Linked DNA regions of Homo sapiens. The protein of the gene in region 1 interacts with the protein of each later gene in a pairwise test. Each region holds a gene or a part of one and is shown in the gene's direction. Other genes may lie near its edges. The genes, in order: PLXNB2 and ARHGEF11.

Region 1 (15,444 bases):
CCCCGCCTGTCAATCCCCAGGGTCAGCCCCATGGCCCCCCGCCTGTCAATCCCCAGGGTCAGCCCCATGGCCCCCCGCCTGTCAATCCCCAGGGTCAGCCCCATGGCCCCCGCCTGTCAATCCCCAGGGTCAGCCCCATGGCCCCCCGCCTGTTAATCCCCACAGGCGGTTTTTCAAGTCCCCCCATTTTGATGGCTGGTACCGGCAGCGGCACAAGGAGATGGCCCTGAAGCTGGAGGCCCTGCACCTGGAGGCTATCTGTGAGGCGGTGAGAGAGGCTGGGGGTTGGGGAGGGCCAGAACATGGTGGGGGTGGGCACAGGCCCAGGGCAGTGAGGGGCCTTGCTGACAGTAGACCCCGTCTTGCCCTGCAGAACATCGAGACCTGGATGAAAGACAAGTCCGAGGTGGAGGTCGTGGACCTGGTCCTGAAACTTCGTGAGAAGCTGGTAAGATGCCTCCCAGCCTTGTCCCAGCGCCACCAGCCTGGCACGGAGCTGCGCCTGCCCTGACCATGGCTGCCCCTCCAGGTGCGGGCTCAGGGCCACCAGCTCCCTGTGAAGGAGGCTACGCTGCAGCGGGCACAGCTGTACATCGAGACGGTCATCGGCTCCCTGCCCAAAGACCTGCAGGCTGTCTTGTGCCCTCCCTAGAACAAAGCCAAGGGCCACGGTCCCAGGGCCCTAGGTCTGCCTGAGCCTCCCACTCCCCAGTGGTGGCGGCACTGGGCCAAGCACACGCTCCCCTTCCTTGGCCCCCCGCCCAGACTGCAGGCTCCCCTTCCTGCACCACCATTGTCTCAGCAGTAAAGGCGACATTTGGAACCACAGCATGGCCTTGACCATAGGGGTTCCTCGCAGGCAGAGCCTTGCCTCCTCCTGGGTCCCACCTGGCCTCTGCAGACCTTAGGCTGGGACGGGGGCGGGGACAGGCTGGGAGCCCTTGCTGATGTGGGTGCGTCTACCGTCTGCCCCTCCCGGTGCCCATCTGTTGGCCCCCGACCCCCCTGCGCTGTGTGTGATGCTTCCCTCAGCCCAACAGGCTGCCCAGGACAGGAGGGACCCTCTCCTGACACAGCCCCCGTCTTGTCTGGGGATGGGAGGCTATTTTGCATATAGTCATCAACTTGAGAAAGGGAGAGACCACTTTGCAGTGTGAAGAGCTCTGCTCACCACCCCTGGTGCTCCTCTGGACACCCACCTGCTTGGGGCTGTGGTTTGTTGGGAGGTAGGGGTTGGGCAGGGGGCTGTGTGCAGCCCAGCACCTCTGCTAGGAGAGCTGGCTCAGCCTGGCTCTCGGAGAGCCACAGCACCTTCCTGGCTCCCAGTCCTGGAGCCCCCACCAGGCACCAGCTCCGTGCGTCCCTTCTGGGAGGTGGACAGGGCTCCTGTTGTCCAAGTGTGTCCGTCCATCCCCCACATGCAGCCCAAGGGGCTCTGGACTTCGGCCTGACCCTGCCTCTGGCTGGAGCCTGCATGTCTCCCTTTCCTTGGTAAGGGGTGAACGTCCCTAAGAGCCACCTCTGGGTTGTATGCTCCCCCCGTGACACCTGCAGGCACTGAGGCCGGTGAGGTACGGTGTTGACCCTGCACAGCACACAGTGACGGTACTGTCAGGGCTCCGGACAGCCAAGCCCTGCTCAGCATCACGCACTGTGTGCCCGGGAGCAGGTCCCCTGACCACTCAGACCCTCAGACTCCTCATCTGAGCGAGCCAGCCATGCAGATGCCCGACAGGGTGCTGGGAGGGCCACTCATGGAGACTGGGCTTTGTACCCTGTGAGGCCGGGCGGGTGCTGGCCAGGGGACACAGGGCTGGGGGAGGGACTTTTTCTTTTTTTTTCTTTTTGAAATGGAGTCTCGCTCTGTTGCCCAGGCTGGAGTGCAGTGGCATGATCTCGGCTCACTGCAAGCTCTGCCTCCCGGGTTCACGCCATTCTCCTGCCTCAGCCTCCCGAGTAGCTGGGACTACAGGCACCCACCACTGCGCTTGGTTAATTTTTTGTATTTGTAGTAGAGACAGGGTTTCACCATGTTAGCCAGGATGGTCTCGATCTCCTGACCTCGTAATCCGCCCGCCTCGGCCTCCCAACGTGCTAGGATTACAGGCATGAGCCACCGCGCCCGGCCGGGACTTTTCTTTTTCTTCTGAGGCCCCCATTCAGTCCGAGGAATGTAGCCTTCATTCAGCGCAACGTACTGTTTGTGTTCTCATTGGTGCTCTCAGACCTCCAGCCAGGTGGTGGAGAGCGAGCACTGCCAGCCACTTCAGTGCAGGATGTGACTGAGCCACAAGGACAGCGGGGTCAGGTGTCCGGGCGCCAGGTAGTTCTCAGAACTTGGTACATGTCAACTTGTCCAGCCCAACTGCAGCCCAGGACAGCCTGTCCCTGTTCCCATTCTACAGACAAGACGCGGAGGCAGCCGGGAGGGTGACCAAGGGGAGCTGTTAAGCCCCAGATGTCTGGTGCAGGGTCCAAGGATGTGACCACATGAAACAGAACACATAGAGGCCGAGGTGGCAAACCTGTTCTGTGGCAGGGACAAGCCGGGGACCCGAGGGTGAGAAAGGTCCTGGCCCCAAATGCAGCTTGGGCCTCCTGACTGTAGCACAGGGGGACCAGCCTCCCCACTGAGGGCTTGGTCTCTAGAGGGTCTGCAGAGATGCTGGCACCTCTTGTGTGGGCAGCTTGAATGCTGACCTCCATAAGATGGGGCCTGGGGGGCCAGTACAGGCCCTGCCATCAGCTGCCCTCCACCAGGGCCCTCTGCAAAAGCCTTATGCTGGTGACCAGCCCCCTGAGGACCACCACTTCAAGGTGTCGGGGCAGCTTGGGAAGACAACCCACCTCTCTCACAACTGTGACCCCACTTTGGGGAGCGCACCCCAAGGACCGTGGCAGCATGTGCTTCCCCACAGCACAGTCTCGCCTCACTTGGCTTTCTGAGGGCTGCCGCACAGCACAGAGGGCTGCAGACCCACATGGCTGCAGGGGAGGGGCTTCAGGCTGGTCTCTGAGGAGCCCCCAGGGACCCTGGCCACTGTGTATCCAGAAATGCACAAGCAGATTTCCCTGGAGGGCTCTGGTGAGGCCACATAGTGGCGTGTGAAGGGGGAACTTGAGGGGGGAACCGGGCTGGGTGGCCAGCATTGCCCTGGGCAGAAGCTAAGGCTAAGGTGGGGGGTAGTGTCCCAGCCCCTCTTCCTCAGGGCCTGTCCCCACCTGTGCAGAAGAGGCCTGGGGTGGAATGTGGCCTGGGGTGGATGGGTGGGGGCTGGGCGTGGAGACCTGCCAGCTCCATCTGTCCGGATGCCTCTTGTGGCCCCCCCAGTGTCAGGGCCGCTCTGAGTTGGCTGAGCCTCTGTCCAGGGCTAGGCCATGGCCCTCCCCGCCCCACGCACTCCAGGCCAGGGGCAGTCAGTGAAGAGGCAGGAAGGTCCAGACAGCTCTACCCCTGGCCAGAGTGCCAGCCCCCGCAGGCAAGAGGGCTTGCTGGGCAGAACTTAGTTGGCGAGGGTGAGGACTGCTGTGGTCACAGGCCTCCCGAAGGACAGGGACCACAGAACCTAGAGGGTGGGAAGGGCTGGGAGCAGGTCTGGAGTGGGGCTCGGGGCTGAGGGTGCACACAGGGGGCCTGCTCAGGGACAGGAAGGACAGCTGCTCACCCTCAAGCTTCCTGCTGGCTATTTAAAGACTCCCTTTTAGTCTAGAACAGTGGCCTTCCCACAGTTTTGGTATTAAAATGTCCTTTTGTGACTGGACCTTGTCTTTTCCTTTTTTGATAAAAAGTTGGCAACCTTGTCAGAACCTGGTAATTTTGGGGTCCTCTGCAGTGAAGGGTAGGGTTGCCGTGATGTGGATTGTGGTTCAAGGCCCAAGGGAAGATTTTGGACAGGAACAAGGCCTGGCTGCTTGAGGGTGGGAGAAGGCAGAGACTGAAAGAACTAAGTCAGGCTGGGGGAGTTTGTCAGGATGTGGCGGGGCGGATCCCGGGTGGGGGAAGCAGAGGAGGAGGGGATGCCTGGCTGGGGACAGGAGGAAGCTGACCAGCTGCAAGGACGGGGCAGGTCTGGGTGGAAGGCGGGCCCCAGGGAGGGGTGACCCAGGGTGGGGGCAAGAGCTTGGGGAATGCTTCTGTCTCCTGCTCAGCACATCCAGTTCCGGGAGGGCAGTGGAGGCGTGCTCCAAGGTCTGGCCCTGCAGACGGTTCACCACCTCTTCTCAAGCCCAGGGGACACTAGGAGCACTGAGGCCAGGACTTGGGACCTGGGATGCCAGAAGTGGGGCCAGCTCTGTCCCAGAAACCAGAACCCCCAGAAAGAGGTCTCGGCCCGCCCACCTCCTGGCCCTGAAGGACCAGGTGGGGTCCCGGGTGCAGCATCCCAAGGTGCTGCTGGAGGCCAGGGATGTGCTGGGAGGCCATCTCCAGGTCCCAGTTTACCCTGGGAGGTTGAGGGCCTGAGACCCCTGGGAAAGGGCCAAAGCCCAGCAGCCCCCACCCCTGAAGGCCGCAGGGGAGCGACTGGTATGCTTCCAGTCTGGGAGTGAGAGTCTGGTGCCCACACATCTCAAGACTGGCAGGGACCCTCACGTTCCTCTGGCCAGGCGAGAGTGCACTCATAATGCCCTCCCCTGGTACCAAGCCATGGCCTCCCCTCAGACCTGCGGGGTTCCTGTGGGGGTGCTCAGGCCATGGGGCCTCTGTGGGCGCTCGTGCTTCCTGGACGGCGGCATGGTGGGCAGGGTGCTGCCCTGGCTGAACCTGGGTCTGAACTGGGGTGCCTGAACCTACCAGACAATGCTGTGGCCGCTGGGCAGGGGAGAAGTGGGGGGCGCGGGGAGCGCAGGCCCAGCCCCTCCCCTCCCGTCCCCTCCCCTCCTCTCCGGTTCTCTTCTGCCCTCTCCTCCCCGCTCCTGCTCCCCCTCCCCTCCCCCTCCCCCTCTTCCCCCTCCCCCTCTCCCCCTCCCCCTCTTCCCCCTCCCCCTCTCCCCCCTCCCCCTCTCCCCCCTCCCCCTCCCCCTCCTTCTCCCCCTCCGCTTTCCCTCTCCCTCTCCCCCCTTCTCCTGTTCTCCCCGCCCTCCCCTCCTCTCCCTCGTCGGGGGCGGGGCCGGCAGCTCCCGCGCGCTCCGGCCCCTCCTCGGCCACACAAAGGCCCCGTCTCCATGGCAGCAGCGCGGGCCAGAGCGCAGCGCCGAGCGCGGCCCGGGCGCCATCGAGCCTTGGCGGCGGACGTGCAGGTACCGAGCTCGGGGGACTGGGCTGCGGGGGACGTCTCGCTGGGCGTGGGGGGGGCTTCGCCGTCAGCGCCGCTCCGCCCGGGCCTGCCGCGCTGGGGCCCGGGGACCTGCGGCGGCTGCGGCTCCGCGGAGGGCTCCCGGGGCCTGGGCCCCGTCCGTCGGTCCATCCGGCGAGGCCCGGGCCGCTGCCGCCCCACTCCCTTCCCGGTGTTGACTCGGGGGACGGGCCCGGCGGCGGGGGCTGCGCGTCCCTCCGGAGCCGCGTCGGATCCCTCCTCCGCGCCTGCCTCTCACTCTTCAGCCGCCGAGCTCCGTGCGCCGAGCGGAGATGGTCTCGCGGTGCGGGCGCTCCGGGCCGGCCCCAGGCTCAGCGGCACAGGAGCCTGGATTTGCCCGAGCTCCCGGGGGCCGTCCCCGCACCCCCTGGGGCCTGCTTGGCGCGGGGGGACCAGGGCGGAGAGCACCCGCACCTGGCGAGACCCCACTGCCTGGGCCTCCTCGCGGTTCCCAGAGTGGCGTCTGGGTGGACACCCCGAGACACAGAAAGTCTCAGAAGCGGGGGCGCGAGCCCTGCCTGTCCCCTGCTGACCCTGCCCCTCCGCACCCTGCTCCTGCAGGAAGCCCCTGCCCTGCCAGCGCCCCTGGTCGGGCTATTCGGCAGATCTGGGGAGCCCGCCTCCCCCTGTCATCTGGGGGTCTCAGAGCCCGGACGCCCTGGGGCTTCCTGCCAGGCCCTTGATTTCTCTTCCCGAAGCTCCCTGGGAAAGGAAGAAAGGGGTCCGTCTGCCCACTGTGGGCTGTGGCAGAGTCAGGACAGGGGGTGAGGGTGAGGGTGAGGGTGAGGGTGAGGGTGAGGGTGAGGGTGAGGGTGGGCCCCAAACCCGGCAGATCCCGGCGGCCTGGAGGGCTCCCTGTGCCCCACCTTCCCTGGACCCCCCCGCCCTCCCCACTTAATGTCTGACTTCGGCCCTTGCTTGGAGGTTCGGCGCAGCCTGTGAGGCTTTAAAGTTGAGCTTCCTCAGGAGCCCTTTGCGGGTGGGAGAGCGAGGCTGCCGGGAAGTGGGGGCTCTCAGCCTGCCCCATGCCCAGATGACCCTGGCACGGAACAGCTGAACAGCTGGTGGGAGGAGCCCTCCCTTTCCTGTCCAGAGGTGAGGGTCTCCCGGAGGGCAGGGCCAGCAGGCATAGGTTTGTGGCGAGTCAGCTTTTTGCATGTTGCATAGAAATCCCCAGAGCCGACTGAGAAGCAAGCAGGTGGGCCTGGCACATCTGAGTCCTCCCACGGTACCTATGGGGGGCCCACCTCTGTCCCGGGGGGTCTGGGAGGCCTGAGGTCTGGCCAGGGGTTCCTTGCCCCAGTAGAGGAGGGAAGTTACTGAGAAAAACAAGGGTTTGGAATGTGAGTCCCCCTCCCCCACCGGCTGCCTGCCAAGAAAGAATTATTTTGGATCATCCAGCCGTGTCCAGTCACCCGAAGCGGGAGGCTGCAGCGTGGGAGAAGGATCCACTTCCGGGACGTGGGTTGAGGGCCCCAGGAGGAGGACGGGCAAGTCCGGGCAGCTCTGCCACTTTCTACTGCAGCTGCCCAGACTGGGCGGGGAGAAGATGCGTCACCTTTGGGTTGGAGAAAGCCCCAAGGTTGGCCCCAGCAGGCCCTGCTGAGCCTGCAGTGGGCCCAAGCCCCTCTGGGGGAGACCATGGAACAGGAGGAGCTCTGGGCCCACCCAGGGACCCCCTCGCCCCACCCAGGGACCCCCTCGCCCCGAGAAGTCTCAATGGTGGTCTGAAGAGCCTCTGAGGTACCCTCCAGGCCCAAGTTCAGGGACACACCCTGTGCCAGTGACCTGTGCGTGCCAGGGAGGAGCAGGCAGGAGCGAGGCTAGGCTGCTAGGGAGGGCACTGGGGTTTCCCTCAGGGGGCCCTCCTGCCCCAACGGACTCCCTATTCAGCTCCTGACTAACGGACCAGCCTCCCTCCAAGCCCCTCCGACAGCCAGTCCTTGCCTACGACCCCCTCTGGATATGGCGCCTGTGAGCCCATCCTGCAGGTGGGGAGACTGAGGCCAGAGATAGGTCTATGTGAGGAGTCATCTGCGATGCTGTGTGGCCAGGGCTGTGGCTACCTGGCGCTCTGGGTCCATGCTGTGTGTGCGCCCGGGGTGTGTGCCCGGCGGCCTGCATGGGGACCACATCGGGGAGGAGGAGCCGGCAGCTGGCCCCAAGTGCAGAAAGCCCAGAGCCTTGGACCCGGCCCAGGGAAGTGGAGCAGAAGAGATTGGATTGGAAGGTGGTGGGGAGGGCCCATATGGCACAGTCCTCCTCCCATCCCAGGACGTCGTCCGTGCTCACCGTGTCCTGCCCCCTGCCTCACCCTGTGCCAGCCACAGCTGATGGTCCCCCTGGGACGCGGGCGTGGGCAGGGGTGCACTGGCTGGGAGAGGCTGTGTCTTCCGGCCCCTCATATTGTGCCTTCTCTGAGCTAGGCAGGCACTTGGATGCCAGGCCTCTGCCACGAGGGCTGCCTTCCCCTGAGCTGGGAGTTCTCACTCAGCTCATGCCTCCGTCCCTCTGGCTGCAGCCTGGCCGCCCTCCTTGGAAGTTGGCGGGGAACCTCTTGTGCCCAGAGCCTGCCTTGGACACGGTTTGGGGATGAGGTGGTGAGCTGCTCAGAATTCACCCAGTGGCCAGCAAGTGGCCCCCCAGCCTTGACCTCCCTTCTCTGAGGCAGATCCAGGTTCTCTGGGGGTGGGAGATTCAGTAGGGCTGGGACTGGCCACAGCCCCTCCCTCCCTCAGGGGTAGTGGCTGTTTGTGTTTGGGGTGGGGCTGTGGGTGGGGTGGGGCTGGGTCTCTGACTAATTACACGATGGGGAGGGTGGGTCAGAGCCTTGGCTGGTGGGGGGTGCTCAGGCTCTGGGGCCCCGGGGAGGCAGCTGCCCTAGCTTCCCTCTTTCTGGTCGAGGTTCCTCCACCTTCTTCCTTTCCGTGGTTTCACATCCCTTGACACAGGGCCTGCTTCTTCCCATACCCCTGGATTGTAAGGACCCCTGCCTTTCTCTGCCTACCAGGGAAGGACCCTGCACTGTTCTGGGCTCCCCCAGCCACAGGTGTGGCCTCAAGCCAGGCCCTGACACAGTGGCCCTCCTGGCTCAGAAGCCTTCTCTCTGAAGACCAAGCGTGTGAAGGGATTGGCTGGGCCCCTCCCGTCTGGCCCTGAACACTGGCACCCCGCACCCCCCCAGTGGATCCACCCTGCCCTGTGAGATTCATGAACCTGTGACAGTGACTGGCCCCAGGCCCAGTGGTGCCGGGGATGGTGGGACAGGCTGCCCCTGGTGGTACTGCAGGTTTGCCCCACCCCCGGGGATGTCTGTCTGGGGAGGAGCCTGGGGCTGGCCTGGCTGTGGAGCTGGGGGTTCTGTTTCGCACAGTCCCGCCTCTGCAGCCCAGATCCTGGAGCCCTTCACACCCAGAGGCCAGCCCACACCGTGGCCCGCTATGGTTGGTGGCCTTCCCTGGGGGTAGCCCCTAAGGCCACACCTGAGCTGCCTCATGTCCCAGGCTAGGTGAGGGAGGAGACTGCCCTGGGCTGGGATCAGGGCGCCTGGGGGCAGGTCCAGCTCTCTTCCTCAGCCCCCTAAGGTCTCCTGGCTTCTGAAAGCCAATAGTTCCTCATTCCAGTGCCAGCTGAGTCCCGGCCCAGGCCTGGGGCAGGAGAGGGAGGTGCTGCCCCAGTTCAGCCACCAGCTCTGCCAGCAGGGTCCCAGCAGCAGCAGCATCAGAGGCAGGGACTGGGCTCCTGGGGGTAGGGCCCCGGCCCCTCTGGCACAGCTGGTCAGCAGCTTCCATGGGGGGCCCTGTGTGGAGACACAGTGTCCAGCACCGATTTCTGGGCCTGATGCTGCCCCAGCTGAGTCCCGCAGCAAGCGCAAGAGAGAGAAGTGCTTGGTGTCCACCTCTGAGAAGGCCTCCTGTGTGAACACGGCCCCCTGAGGGGCCAGGCAAGGGCGTCTGCTCCTGTGGCTGGGACGGTTCCTGCCCACGAGCCTTGTGTAGGGCTGCGGCTCTCTTCCCAGGTGACCTTCTGTTGTGGTCTGGGGCCCCCGAGCCAGCATGCCACCTGCTCAGAGACAGATTGGGCCCCCTGTCAGATTGGCGTCTGGGGGCACTGTCTGCTCCTTCCAGGCAGCTTTGAGGACTTCTCAGAGGAGGAACCCCCCTGCCCTGCTGGTCCAAAGTGGGGTGCTGAAGGCCGAGGCAGTTTCCAGGGGGCTATGCCTCAGGCTGCGTGGGTGGCTGTGGTAGGAGCGTGCTCTGTGATTGTCACTGCATTTGCCTGGGGTCCATGCTCTGTCCTCAGCTGGGGTCTGGCTTTGAACCTAGGTGAGTTCTGGGGCTCTGAGGACAGGCCAGAAGCAGGAGTGTGGGGGGGTCTCTCCTGGGGGAAGCAAGGGAGGCCTGGGCCTGTGTGACTCAGACGTGGTAGGGTGGCATGGGAGCCACAGCTTGGGGGGATGGCGGGGGGCTTGAGGGTAATCCAAGTATTTCAGGGACCCAGCCATGGAGAGTGGGGTTTGAGGACCAGCAGGAGGTGAGGACTCTGTGGATCCCAGCCCTGTCAGGTGTGTTTTCAGAGCTGGGGCCTGCTTTGGAGGAGATGGAGGGCACAGAACACTGCTGAGCCCAGGCCCTGTGCCCAGCCTTGCTCCAGCCTTACCGGCTTGACACCAGGGCCTCCCTCCCACCAGCGAGGGGGAGAAGCTATTTTAAGTGGAGCCAGCAGTTGACAGGGGCAAGGGGCAGGTGGTGGGAGGGAGGTGCTCCAGCATGGCCCCCCCCACTCCCTCTCAGCCTCAGAGATTGGCCAGGGGAGCTGAGGGGCTTGGCCTCCCCACTCCTATGTTGGCACCGAGCCTGATCTGGTGACCACCCTGAGGGACTTCAGGAGAAAAGGATGTTAGGGAGGAGGGCGTGAAGGTGGGGCGCCCCAGGCAGGCCGCCCAGGCCCAGCAAAGCTCGCTGGAGGGTCCCCCAGTTCCACATCTAGACCTGGGGCCCAGTGGCTCTCGACCAGGCCCTGTGGGGTTTGAAGTCCTCAGCTCCACCATGAGCAGAGCAAGCCTCCGCGTGGAGCAAGGGGCTGGACCTGGCCTCCAGGGGCACCCACCTCCCCACACAGCTCCAGCCACGGGCATCACCTCCCACTCACTGTCCTGCCCCCACTCTGAGATGGGCATTTCCTCACTGGGAAATCCCTGTCCCTCTGGCCTCCCAAAGCCCTGAGTGTTTGCCCCTGTGGGGCCCAGCCCACACCCTGGGCTGCCTCACCCTTGGCCTGGACCCAGGTCCTGCCCAACACCCTGTGCCTCACCAGCCCCCAGCTCATCCTGGGCAGACGCAGCCCCTCTCCCCTGCTGAGACGGCCCTGCCCCCACCCCACTTCCCCATGCCACACATGGCCCCTCCCTCGGGGCTCCAGGCAGCGCTGGGTTCTGAGAGCCCCACTGCCCCTCTTAGCCCAAGTGCCCCGGCCTGAGGCTTCTCTCCCAGGCTCTTTGTACTGGGGACGAGTTCTGGGTGTTGGGGTGAGACCCTGTTGGCAGGGCTTTTCCGGCAGCACCCAGCCATGTGTGTCTGCACATGTGTGGTCATGTGTGCAAGTGGTGTCTGGCACACAGGCTTGGCGCGGTGCCCCAAGCTAATTGTGGGGTTCAGCGGTGATGGGCGAGGCGGGGCTGGGGTGACCGCTGAGGCGCTGACAGGCTGACGGGGAGATTACAGGCCTTGCTTACTGCTCACTGGCTGGGGCCTCACCCGTCCACCCCCCAACGCCCACCCCGGGGGTGAGAAGGGGGCTGTGGGCGGGGGCTGGTCTTGAGCCAGCTGCATCCAGGCAGGACCTGGTCTCTGAGCAGCCGGCTGCTGCGGGGTTGAGCTGGAAAGGGGGAGATGCGTGGGGGCCACTCAGAGGAGAGCCTGCAGGTGGGGCTGGGCACCGGCGGGCCGGGAGGCCTCCTTTCAGGAGAGACTCCAAGTGACTGAGCCCCAGAATCCCACGAGAGTCCCTCCGTGGCCGCCTGCTGTCTGACCGCATGTCCTGTCCTGATGAGTTGGTGGTTCCTGCTGTAGCCATCGGCCTCGTGTGCCCCGAGCGCCTGGCGGTGCCCACCCCTCCCACAGGAGGTCCTCAGGAAGCACGGAGACATCGGTAGGTTCATTGCGCTGCCCAGCTTTCTGACCCGAAGGACCACGGTGTAGCAAGAGGGGGCTGCAGCTGTGCCCAGGTTGGACAGGATGGGGTCTGGGACCCCGAAAGGGGTGGTTGAGGAGAGAGGTGGTTCTGCAGGCCTGGTGCGTGTGGGGACAGGGCGCCGTAGCCAACTGGATCCCACCTTCTGTCTGAGGGCTGGGGAGGACCATCCTCCAGATGCGCCAGTGGGCCGTGGCCAGAGAGGAGGCTGAGGAGGGCCTCACAACTGTGTGTAGGATGGGAGGGCAGCCTGGGGCCCCAGTCTAGGGACGCACCATATACAGGGGCTGCACTTGGTGCAGAGGCGGAGAGGGGGCTGGGGCAGGCCCCTTGGGCATGGCCAGGTGAGCTCAGGGGGTGCCTGAGGGCCAGGGCTAGATACAGAGGCCCTGGGTACCAGGTGGCCTGGGTGTGTCAGGAGGTGTGGACCAGTGGGGGCTGTGACTAACTCGGCTGGAGCAAGTGACAGGAGGAGCTGGGGCTTCATGGGGCACCCCCAGGATCCTGGGCTGGTGACCCCATCACTGCCACCAGCCAGGGTGACTTTTCCTGCTGGGACCCAGAGCCCAGACTGCAGGGGAGGCTGGCCCTAAGTAGGAACCCCACCCTGAAACCAGGCTGGCGGGGAAGGGGTGCGACGGCCTCCACCTGGGAGGGGTCCTCAGCCGAGAGTCCAGCGGGGACCGCTGTAGACGCTGAAGCGAGGCTCAGGCCTCCACATCAGTCTGTCCCTGGAGCCCCGCCCCGCCCCGCCCCGCCCCAGCTCCTAGGTCGGGTTGTGCCGGGAGCGTTCGGCCTTTGCCTCGGGTGAGTCTGGCCTTGACCCTGGGTCCGGAGTCCTGCGGGAGGCTGCTCCGGGCAGGGTCGTGCATGATTGGCAGCTGGGCCGGGAGGGGCCGAGCCCTGAGACCGACCGGGGGCACGGGCGGAGCCACCATCGGCGGGGCGGAGCTGCTCCCCGCGCCCCTTCCACGGCTCGGAGGACTTAGGTAATGGCCGGCTGTGCGATCCGATGTGCCCGACGCCAGGTGAGCGCCCCGCGGGGACGACGTCTCCTGCGCTCGTGTGACTGTCGCCGCCGCCGTCATTGTTACTCGGGTCAGACTCCCACCCGCCCGCGCGTCCTGGGCCCCCGGCCTGGTGAGGTTTGTCCCAGAGGCGGCCACGTGCTCCCTCCAGGTGCGCGAGGCCGAGGGGCGGACGGGGCGCCGGAGTCCCCGGGAGGGCGCGGGCGGTGGCCGTGGAGCTTGGGCTCGCGGGGGGCAGTGGGCGGCGCCGAGGAGGCGCGGGCCTAGTCCCTGCGCTTCCTGGCCCCGGGCGCGCTTTGCCCCTGGCTCCCGGGCAACCGTTCTGCGCCCTCCGGGGAGTCTGGCGGTGCCGGCGCCGGGGGAGGGGCTGTGCCACCTGGGTCGGCCTGCGAGGAATAGTCCAGGGCGCTCCACACAGGCCGGGTGCCCGCCTTTGGCTCTGGCCGGGTACCGGGCTCGCAGACCCACCCAGGAGACACCGCCCCCCGCCTCCCGGGCTGAACTCTGACCCGGGTCACCGGTGGGTGGGGCTGGGTGGCGGGGCCGCCGGTCTCGCCCTCGCCGGGTCTCCCGCGCGCTCTCCACCCAGTCCCTCCCCGCGCCTACCCACGGGCGCGGCGCTGCGGGAAGGGGCGGCCGGGGTCCTTGCCGACCCCCCAGCCCCACGCCCCGCGGCACCCCCCTCGCGCTTGTTTTGAAAACAGCGGAGGCTGGGATTCGCCGGCGCGTCTGTTTTGTTTCCTCTGATGTGTTTAGCGCTCTGGGATAATTGCAGATTTGCGTGTGTCGCTAGCTTTGGCCCGGCCCCCTGGCTGCTGGCTGCGGGGCCTCCGGGGCCTCCGTGGCTTTTCTGTGACGCCTGTCGCCCCGTTCCGGGACAGCCACTCTCAGACGCGCCTTGGCCTGTGCTTGGGGCAGCCTATCGCTCACTTGGTCCGAGGCTGCTTCCCCCGCCCCCGCACCGGGCCCCCCCCCCACCCCACGCAGGGCCTGTGTCCACCCCAATCCTTTGAGCCCTGGAGGGCCGCACAGCCCTAGGACCTCTGCCTTCTCCACCGCCCATGTCCTAGGTGCTCATGCCACCCCCTCCTGCCCTCCCAGGCCTAGGCCCGAGCTCTCCTCGTTCTTCATGGCGGCTGCTGCCTGGATCCCCATCTTGGCCCCTGCCGGGCCGCTGCCCATGCACCTCCTCTGGCCCCTGCCCTCTCTGGTTCCCGTGCCAGAGCCCACAGCCTGGCCTGGCCAAGAGCAGCCCCCAAGCTGGGCCTGCCCTCCCACTGGGCCTGACTGCTTTGTGCTGGTTTGATTTTAGCATTAAGAATGGTCAGTCTGGCTGGGTGTGGTGGCTCACGCCTGTAATTCCAGCACTTTGGGAGGCCAAGGCGGGTGGATTGCCTGAGCTCAGGAGTTCGAAACCGGTCTGGGCAACACGGTGAAGCCCCATCTCTACTGAAATACAGAAAATTAGCTGGGCATAGTGGCGTGCACCTGTAGTCCCAGCTACTGGAGAGGCTGAGGCAGGATAATTGCTTCAACCTGGGAGGCAGGGGTTGCAGTGAGCCAAGATCATGCCCCTACACTCCAGCCTGGGTGACAGAGTGAGACCTGTCTCAGAAAAAAGAAAAGAATGGCCCAGTCTGTTTGCTTGAAAATACTGAAAGGCAGAGAACTCCCAATTTTAGTCCCCACTGGAACCACCCCGCAGTGCAGCCAAGACTTGGGGCGGTCTCAGAACCAAGGCTGGCAGGAGTTTGGGGGCCTGGCAGCCCCCACTCTTGGCCTCATCTGGAGTAGGGCTCTGTCCTTCCCCCTTACATGCCTCTTGTTTACCTTTACCCAGTGGGAGGGGCGGGGGCCAGACTCAGCCCGTGCAAGGGGCCTGGGGGCTGCTGGTCAGAAAAAAAAAACAAAAGGGACCTCAGGAGAGGGCCACAGGTGCCCAGCCAGCAAGCAGCTCCTGCTGCCTCCCAGGCTGTCTAGGTTGTAGAGGGGAGGCCCAGCATCCCTGTGCTGCCCTTGGCCTACATCGGAGTTCTGGTTGGGGGAGGAGACCCTTCTGCTCTGTTGGCCTGGGGGTGACCTGCGGGGACAGGTCTTCTGGGCTCGCGCCCCTGCATGTCACCACCCCTTCCCGGCTCACTGAGTTTGGACCGGCAGGTGCCCAGTGACCAGATCCAGTGTTTGGACTTGTTGGGGCAGGGCGGCGGGGCAGCCGGGGCCTGTCGGGGAAGACCATAGACCACAGAGCAAGGCCAGTCCCTCAGGGGCTGGGTTAGGGAGGGTGTCTCGGGGTCTAAAGGATGGGCAGGGGCTTTCCAGGGAGCACAGTGAACATGGACGTGGGAATGTCGTGAGGCAGCGTTCTCTGAGTGGGCACAGCTGTAAAGATTTCCACACCCACTCAACCTCAAGGCAGCCCTCTGAGGTGGGCGCCATAATGACCCCCAGGTTACATATGGGGAAACTGAGGCACAGAGCAGCTTTCTGAATGGCCCACATGAGCCAGCTAGAACGTGACAGAGCTGGGGTGTGAACTCACTGGTCTGGCTCTGGACTTCAGGCCTCGAGGTCCCTGGGTGCAGCAGCGTCAGGTGTGACCACAGCCACCTAAGGAAGAAACTCCTTTTTCTGGGGTAGCTAAGCGGGAATCTTGTGAGCAGGAGATGGAGCCTGGCTCAGTGTTGAGGGCAAGATGGATGGAGGTGGGAGAAGCCAGAGGCCGGGCAGAGGAGGTAGACTTGGGCCAGGAAGGGCCCCAGACTGAGGGTGGAGGGATCATGGTGTTATTCTCTGGGAGGGGAAATCCATGGCCGTTCTCCACGGTGAGGGCCAGGGAAGAGGACGGCAGAAAGCCTCCTCCAGGAGAGTGGAGTATGGGTCTTGCCTCTGGCTTCCTGAGTGGATCGATCACTCAGGGGAGGTTGTTCGAG
Region 2 (7,000 bases), on another chromosome or scaffold:
TGAACAGCAAGCCTAGTGTCCTTCATTTTCTTTTTGCTTCTAGTCAAACCAGGCAATGTGAGGAACATCATTCAGCACTTTGAGAACAACCAGCAGTATGATGCCCCAGAACCTGGGACACAACGACTCTCGACCGGAAGCTTTCCTGAGGACCTGCTGGAGAGTGACAGGTAGCACTGGCTGGATGGGACTCGCCAGCTGCTCGAAGAGTGGGTCATGGGCAGGGCTGATGCTAGGGTTTAATTCCAGCTACTTGACCCCTCTCCACTAGCTTCTAAGGCTCCCTTTACAGAACTTCCTCCCCACCCCCAGTATCTTCAGGAGACACATTGTGTGCCAGTGAACAGGCCAGTGGAAGAGCAAGCAGATCCCCGACTTCCAGCCCAAGAACTACACACTTTTCAAATTCCCTTTGGATTTATCACCTGACTACTCAGTAGCCTTCATCCAAGATCGAGCTAGGTGATAAAAAGCAGCTAATCAGGAAACCCTAAGTGACAAGGATAAGGAAGACTATAGTGGGGGCAAGAGGGAGTCCTGGGGAAAAAAGACCCAGGCAGGCAAAAGAAAGTGGTTTCCTGTCTGTATGTGAAGAAGAGAGCCAGAGATGAGGTTCTGCTGGGTACTTTAAAGACAAATGATGTAACTATAGGCATCAGATGTCCACCTCAGCAAAGAGAGGCAAAGTGGATTGATTACAAATGGACTGTTTTTCCCTTTTCAAGAAGAAAAAGGGGAATTGAGACTGGCATCTCTCATATTCTTCTTTGGTCAGGTTCTAACTAGAGTCCCCATCTGGTATGAAAACTTGTTCTTGGACTTACTTGCTCTTGATTGTGGCATGACAGCAGTCAAGTCATGTCTAAAATTCTATAGCCAACACTTAAAAACCAACACCACCCTTAAAGGTGACTTAAACAGGTAGAGTAATATGGTCTTGTGTGGGGGGAAATAATGCTTGTGTACAGTCAAGCCTCAGAGCCACTGAGCTGGAGTATAGGCAGGCATGAAAGCAAGTCAGTATGCAGCAGCGTGGATATTCAAGCCATTTTGCCTTCGTTTGTTTGTTTGTTTGTTTTGGGGATTTTTTTTTCTTTTTTAAAGAGACAGGATCTTTCTCTGTCACCCAGGCTGGATTGCAGTGGTGCAATCATAGCTCACTGCAGCCTCAAACTCCTGGGTTCAAGGGATCCTCCCACCTCAGCCTCCTGAGTAACTAGGGATACAGGCATGCACCACTGCACCTGGCTAATTGATTTTTATTTTTATTTTTTTGAGACAGTCTCACTATGTTGCCCAGCTTGGTCTCGAACTCCCAACCACAGCAATCTTCCTGCCTCAGCCTCCCAAAGTGCTAGGATTATAGGCATGAGCCACTGCACCTGGCCTATTTTGCCTTTGAAATAACTAATTATCAAACCATAAGCCAACCTTTCCTGCTTGAATGCAGGTTACTCCTTTCTGTTTATATGAAGCCTTTTTTCAGCTTAACACGTGTTAAAAGATTTTGCTGCCATGAGAATTGACAGATTTACAGGAGACAAAGGTTAGATTTGTACTGGGGGAAGGTTGAGTTCTAACATTAATGGGTAAGTTAAATACGCAAATTATGTGATTCCTGTGGAAGCACATGATGTCGTAGATATATCAAATATTTTAAGATTATAAGACATCAACATTTTGAGAAAATATTTGAGACCATTTACAAAGTTGCATTCTTGGCATTGCTAGGTAAATTTGCCCTAAGACACTTGCTAGGATCCTAAAGCTACTCTAAGCAGAAGCCTTTGGGTTTGATGATTATCAACTCATTGGCAATCTCAGAAGAAATAGTATTAGCAATATGGTGGGTCAGAGATTGTTGTAGATACTCAACAGGTATAAGATGCCCCAGTTCTAGAAGGCAATACCCTAGGAATTTGGGGGCAAAGACAGATGATATGCCTCACTTCTTGGTGAGGAGCATTACTTACTTCTGGGTGCTTGAAGGAAGGTGCTTAGCTCTGCAGCCCCAGTAACTCCACTGGGTGTTTGTTGTGGTGGTACAGTGACCCATTAGGACACTGAAAAGTGTTCCGAGTTAGTCTGGGTTGGGATTGTTCTAACACAATTCTGGAGGGTGAATTCAATAAGGGATCAGTGGGCAGTATGTTTTCTAACCCTGCAGACAAAACCCTCAGGACCCTAGGAGATGAGCTCCATTTTGGATCATCTGGCAGTTTGGGCACAATGAATGGAGACCGAGACATTTAGCTCCTCATTGCAGCAACCTGCTGTGCTATTAAGAGCTCTGCAGACATTTCCAGGCCTCCTGTGGTCCTAGAAGCAGAGCAGGATGTAGATTACTAATAATATCAGAAAACCAGCCCAACAGGGCCACAGCATGGAGGTGGGGTGACCATCCTGGGGCAGCTAGGGGTCAGAGGTGCCAGCTGTCTTGGGCTGATGCACTGCAGGACTCGACACCGCAACACCCAGTCATCAGCATCTCATCAAACCCCAGAGACACTCAGTAGCCAAGCACGGCAGGCCAAGGAGCGGGTCCTGCCTATCAGTAAAAAGGCCCCTTTAAGCACAAGCCTGTCTGCTCTTGAGAGGAAATGGAATCTTAGGAACAGTATTGTTAAGATAAGAATGGAACTCATCCACATCACAACTGGAAGGCTAAGAATCCAGCAGCAGATAGAACTTTCTGACAGGCAGTGTGGAAAATCCTAAAATGAGCTGTGAATATAGTGACTCCACTTTCCTCTTAAGACCTCTTAAAAGAGGTTCGCCTCAGGCAGAGTTAAAGGTGGGAGCTGACCCGTTCCAAAGCAGAGGCAACGTGAACTGGCCACTAGGGGCAGGGAGCTGGGACCTTGTGTTCCCTGTTGAGGGACGATGATGTCTACCACCTTCTTGACAGAAGCATGGTGTCTCAGGCCTCTGGACACACTACAACTCAGAGTCTGTTAGCCCCAGATTTCATCTTCCTGTTAGGATCCCTTCCTAATAGCTCCAGAGGAAGATGACTGTCCATCCATCAGGCTAGGCTGGGGAGAGAGGAGGAGTTTGTAGAGCAGCAAAAATAGTCTGTCATTGAGAAGCTTCCACTGCCATCCAGCTGCTTTGGCCATGTTCAGGAGGAGAACCTGTGGCACGGAGGCATCTTTGAGATGGAGCCACAGGTAAGAGTTAGCCAGGATGTAAGCATGGCCCACTGACTTCCCAAGTCCCAAAGTCTTTTGTCCCTTCCCCCCAGTTCACGCTCAGAGATTCGCCTGGGCCGCTCTGAAAGCCTCAAGGGCCGGGAAGAGATGAAACGGTCTCGAAAGGCAGAGAACGTGCCCCGCTCTCGCAGTGATGTTGACATGGATGCTGCTGCGGAGGCTACTCGCCTGCACCAGTCAGCCTCGTCCTCTACCTCCAGCCTCTCCACCAGGTGGGCAGGGCTACAACGGCTGCACCCATGGACATCTCAGGGGTGGCGGCAAGGATAGAGGGTTGCTGAGAGTTGACATTCCCTCCACAGGTCTCTTGAGAACCCAACCCCTCCATTCACTCCCAAAATGGGCCGCAGGTAAGTGATGGGCACGGTGGTGCCTCTGTTTGGTGTCTCTGTGTCCCATCCACACCCAGCTGCTCCTCTCACCTGCAAGGGGCTGGTTGGGTGGCTGTCTCCTCTTCTGGGCCCACTGGTTTCCCATGTGCATGGGGCAAGCAGGTCGGGCAGGAGAGGGAGGGCCAAACCCTCTGTGTGAGTTCTTCCTCCTAAATGAAGCTGAGCTGCCTGTTTTCCCCCAGGAGCATTGAGTCCCCCAGTTTGGGGTTCTGCACAGATACCCTCCTTCCCCACCTCCTAGAGGATGATCTGGGCCAGCTGTCTGACCTGGAGCCAGAGCCAGATGCCCAAAATTGGCAGCATACAGTGGGCAAGGATGTGGTGGCTGGGCTAACCCAGCGGGAGATTGACCGGCAAGAGGTCATCAATGGTGAGAACGTGCTCCACTGCCCCCAGCTCCGCTCACACGTGTGGGAATAGGTCCAGAATGCCTAAGACACAAGGGTGGGAAAGAGGTAAATAGGGTGGGGGGCCCCTGTGTGCTGGAGCAGGTCCACATTGCCTGTTGCTATAAGGTTCCCCTCAGTTCTGGCCCTTGGAGTAAGAGAAAAGTTGCTGTATGATCTGAAACTGGCACTTCAGTTCCCCCAAAAATAGAGTGGTGTGGGAACCAGGTCAGGGACTCTAGATACTTGCTGATCCGTTTTCTCCCTGGCTTTCTACCCTCCTTGTCACAACCACCGCTCAGAGCTGTTTGTGACTGAAGCTTCCCACCTGCGCACACTCCGGGTCCTGGACCTGATCTTCTACCAGCGAATGAAGAAGGAGAACCTGATGCCCCGGGAGGAGCTGGCCCGGCTCTTCCCGAACCTGCCTGAACTCATAGAGATTCACAGTAAGGAGCCTGTGCCCCTCCAGACTCCTCTTCTGCTGCCCTTCAGCTTCCTGTTCCACTTTGGCCCCACTGCCAGGACCTCCCTGAGTAGGTAACCTCCCACCAATCCCTGGTGAGAAAAAGATCTGTGGACAGCCTGAAACCAGCACTGGAGTTCACCCCGAAAGTACAATGGTTTCCAGACCCTTCCCATGGCACTGCTGTCAGAGATTCACTTCTCTCTGTCAGAAAGGTTCTGGCAGTTGAGCTCAACCCCAGGCATTTCTATTTGTTCTCTTCCTGCCCCAGATTCCTGGTGTGAAGCCATGAAGAAGCTCCGGGAGGAAGGCCCCATCATCAAAGAGATCAGTGACCTCATGCTGGCCCGGGTATGGCTCCAAACTTCTCCCTCTTGGCAAGGAGGAGATTGGGGGAGGCAGGGTCTCATTACCCAAGGCCAGAGAATTTGGCAAAGGCAGGGGTCTGGTCCCAGGCAGGGGTTTGATGCCTGGCCCCGTGTCCATTCTGCCTCTTCAGTTTGATGGCCCTGCCCGAGAGGAACTCCAGCAAGTGGCTGCACAGTTCTGTTCCTATCAGTCAATAGCCCTAGAGCTAATCAAGACCAAGCAACGCAAGGAGAGTCGATTCCAGCTCTTCATGCAGGTGCGTCCTTGGCCATGCCTTGGCCTTCCTTCATCTCCATCAAGGTCACCAAGGATCTCCTGAACTTCTCTCCTTCTGGCCACATCATCCCTGTCTACAGCAACTCCCTCTACCCTTCGACACACGCTCCTCAAAAGCACTGACTCACTCTAGACAAAGAGACTTCTGTTTGTTGGAAAGAATCCTGGATTAGCAGTCAGAGGCCTGGCTCACCCACCAGCACCTGTGTGTCCTGAGATGGATCTCAGTTTCCTTGTCTATAGAATGGCAGCAATATGCCTGCCCTTCTGTTTTGACCATATCCCTTTGGATTGGTGTCTCCCTGCCACCACACACCCTTCTCTACATCTTTAAGGAAGAAGCTTCCACTGCCATTTCTGAGTGATCCATCTGGCGTTAGGACCTGTTTGTCATGTTCACACCCATCTTGGCCCTGAGCCCATAAGCCAGCTCCCAGCCACGCTGACATCTCCTCCCTTCTGTGTCTCCTGCTGTCTAGGAGGCTGAGAGCCACCCTCAGTGTCGGCGGCTGCAGCTGAGAGACCTCATCATCTCTGAGATGCAGCGGCTCACCAAGTACCCGCTGCTGCTGGAGAGCATCATCAAGCACACAGAGGGTAGCACCTGGGGAGGGGCTGGCATCACAGGCAGTGGGCCTCGTGCCAGACCCTCATTCTGACACTGCTTTGTGACCTTAGCAAGTCACTGTGCCTTGTGGTCTTTGGTGTCTTCGTCCTTTTTCTGTTGTGGGGTGTTTCAGAGAAGAAAATGATTGTAAATGTCCTTTGGAAAATATAAGGTGTTTAATAGTGGGAGGAGTAGGGGCCACCATCGAAGGCCACCTGTGTGGGCCTTTGTGCAAATCCAAGGAAAGCATCCGGTGCCCAACACAGGCTGGCACTCAAGGGCACCTGGGTCCCTCTGGTTGCATGGGGCTGGATTTTATCCCCATTCATGCCCCCTGCAGTGCACAAAAGACACAGCCTATGTGGTTACACTAGAGGGGCAGGGGACCAGACTGAACAAGAGGGTCTAGCCTCAGGTTATCACTCTCCCTGGGATCCTGGGCATCTTTCACTACCCCCAAATTTCAGACATTGGAGTCAGGACAGAGAGGTGTTAGGAACCCCAATCTGATTTGAACAGGCTTTCTAGAGGCATAATTGTGGCCATTTACCACAGTCTCTGTCCCTTGCATCTGTAGAGCTGGTTGTAGTAGAGGCAGGGATTCCCAGGAGCTATCAGCGTCTTCAAAGCAGTGATCTGTCTGAGACCTGAAGATGCTCAGTAAAAGTTACCCTTACCACTTGGGGTCCTCATGTGAGGCAAGGGTGGCTCCCCTCCACCCACGCCTGCTGGTTTGAAGCAAGCCAGCTGCCATGGATGAATAGGCAGATAACAGCTGGCGCCATGTTGGACTTCTCAGGCAGGAGCCCCAACCATCTCTTCTGTCCATTTTGGTAGGTGGCACCTCTGAGCATGAGAAGCTGTGCCGGGCCCGGGACCAGTGCCGGGAGATTCTCAAGTATGTGAATGAAGCGGTAAAACAAACAGAGAACCGCCACCGTTTAGAGGGCTACCAGAAACGCCTGGATGCCACCGCCCTGGAGAGGGCCAGCAACCCCCTGGCAGCAGAGTTCAAGGTAGGAGGCAGAGGCTGCAGCAGTCAACCCCTCACACTTTGTGGGTACCCTTAGGAGCAGAACACTGGTCAGGGCTTGGAGAGTCTTAGAGGTAGGAGACAGAGACCAGATAGGGTGGCACAATGGAGCCCCAGAAGACACACACCCTGCTATTGTCACCCTGTCCCTAGATGGACAAGGCAGGCCGCCCCACCTAAGAAAGACTAGATGTTGGAACTCAGCCTGAGAGAGCAGGGGATGGGGTAGAACTGGAGGTAAGGTGGAGATCTTCTGGGA

What was found.
Region 2: the proteins of PLXNB2 (region 1) and ARHGEF11 interact in a two-hybrid assay, tested with the Homo sapiens proteins (2 studies listed by BioGRID).

The regions. Positions count from the first base shown.
Region 1 is NC_000022.11:50,297,347-50,312,790, reverse strand, and holds the start of PLXNB2 (plexin-B2 isoform 3 precursor), read left to right. Parts: upstream 1-5,144; 5' UTR 5,145-5,238; intron 5,239-8,969; exon of another isoform or gene 8,970-9,312; intron 9,313-11,121; exon of another isoform or gene 11,122-11,328; coding exon of another isoform or gene 11,329-11,444; intron 11,445-12,279; exon of another isoform or gene 12,280-12,293; intron 12,294-12,455; exon of another isoform or gene 12,456-12,665; intron 12,666-15,444. Other genes in the region: protein DENND6B, read left to right, coding at 166-268, 374-448, 530-652.
Region 2 is NC_000001.11:156,944,743-156,951,742, reverse strand, and holds part of ARHGEF11 (rho guanine nucleotide exchange factor 11), read left to right. Parts: intron 1-43; coding exon 44-170; intron 171-1,725; exon of another isoform or gene 1,726-3,117; coding exon of another isoform or gene 3,118-3,170; intron 3,171-3,223; coding exon of another isoform or gene 3,224-3,244; coding exon 3,245-3,424; intron 3,425-3,514; coding exon 3,515-3,562; intron 3,563-3,786; coding exon 3,787-3,974; intron 3,975-4,292; coding exon 4,293-4,439; intron 4,440-4,727; coding exon 4,728-4,807; intron 4,808-4,955; coding exon 4,956-5,081; intron 5,082-5,580; coding exon 5,581-5,698; intron 5,699-6,545; coding exon 6,546-6,724; intron 6,725-7,000. UniProt on the Homo sapiens protein: May play a role in the regulation of RhoA GTPase by guanine nucleotide-binding alpha-12 (GNA12) and alpha-13 (GNA13). Acts as guanine nucleotide exchange factor (GEF) for RhoA GTPase and may act as GTPase-activating protein (GAP) for GNA12 and GNA13.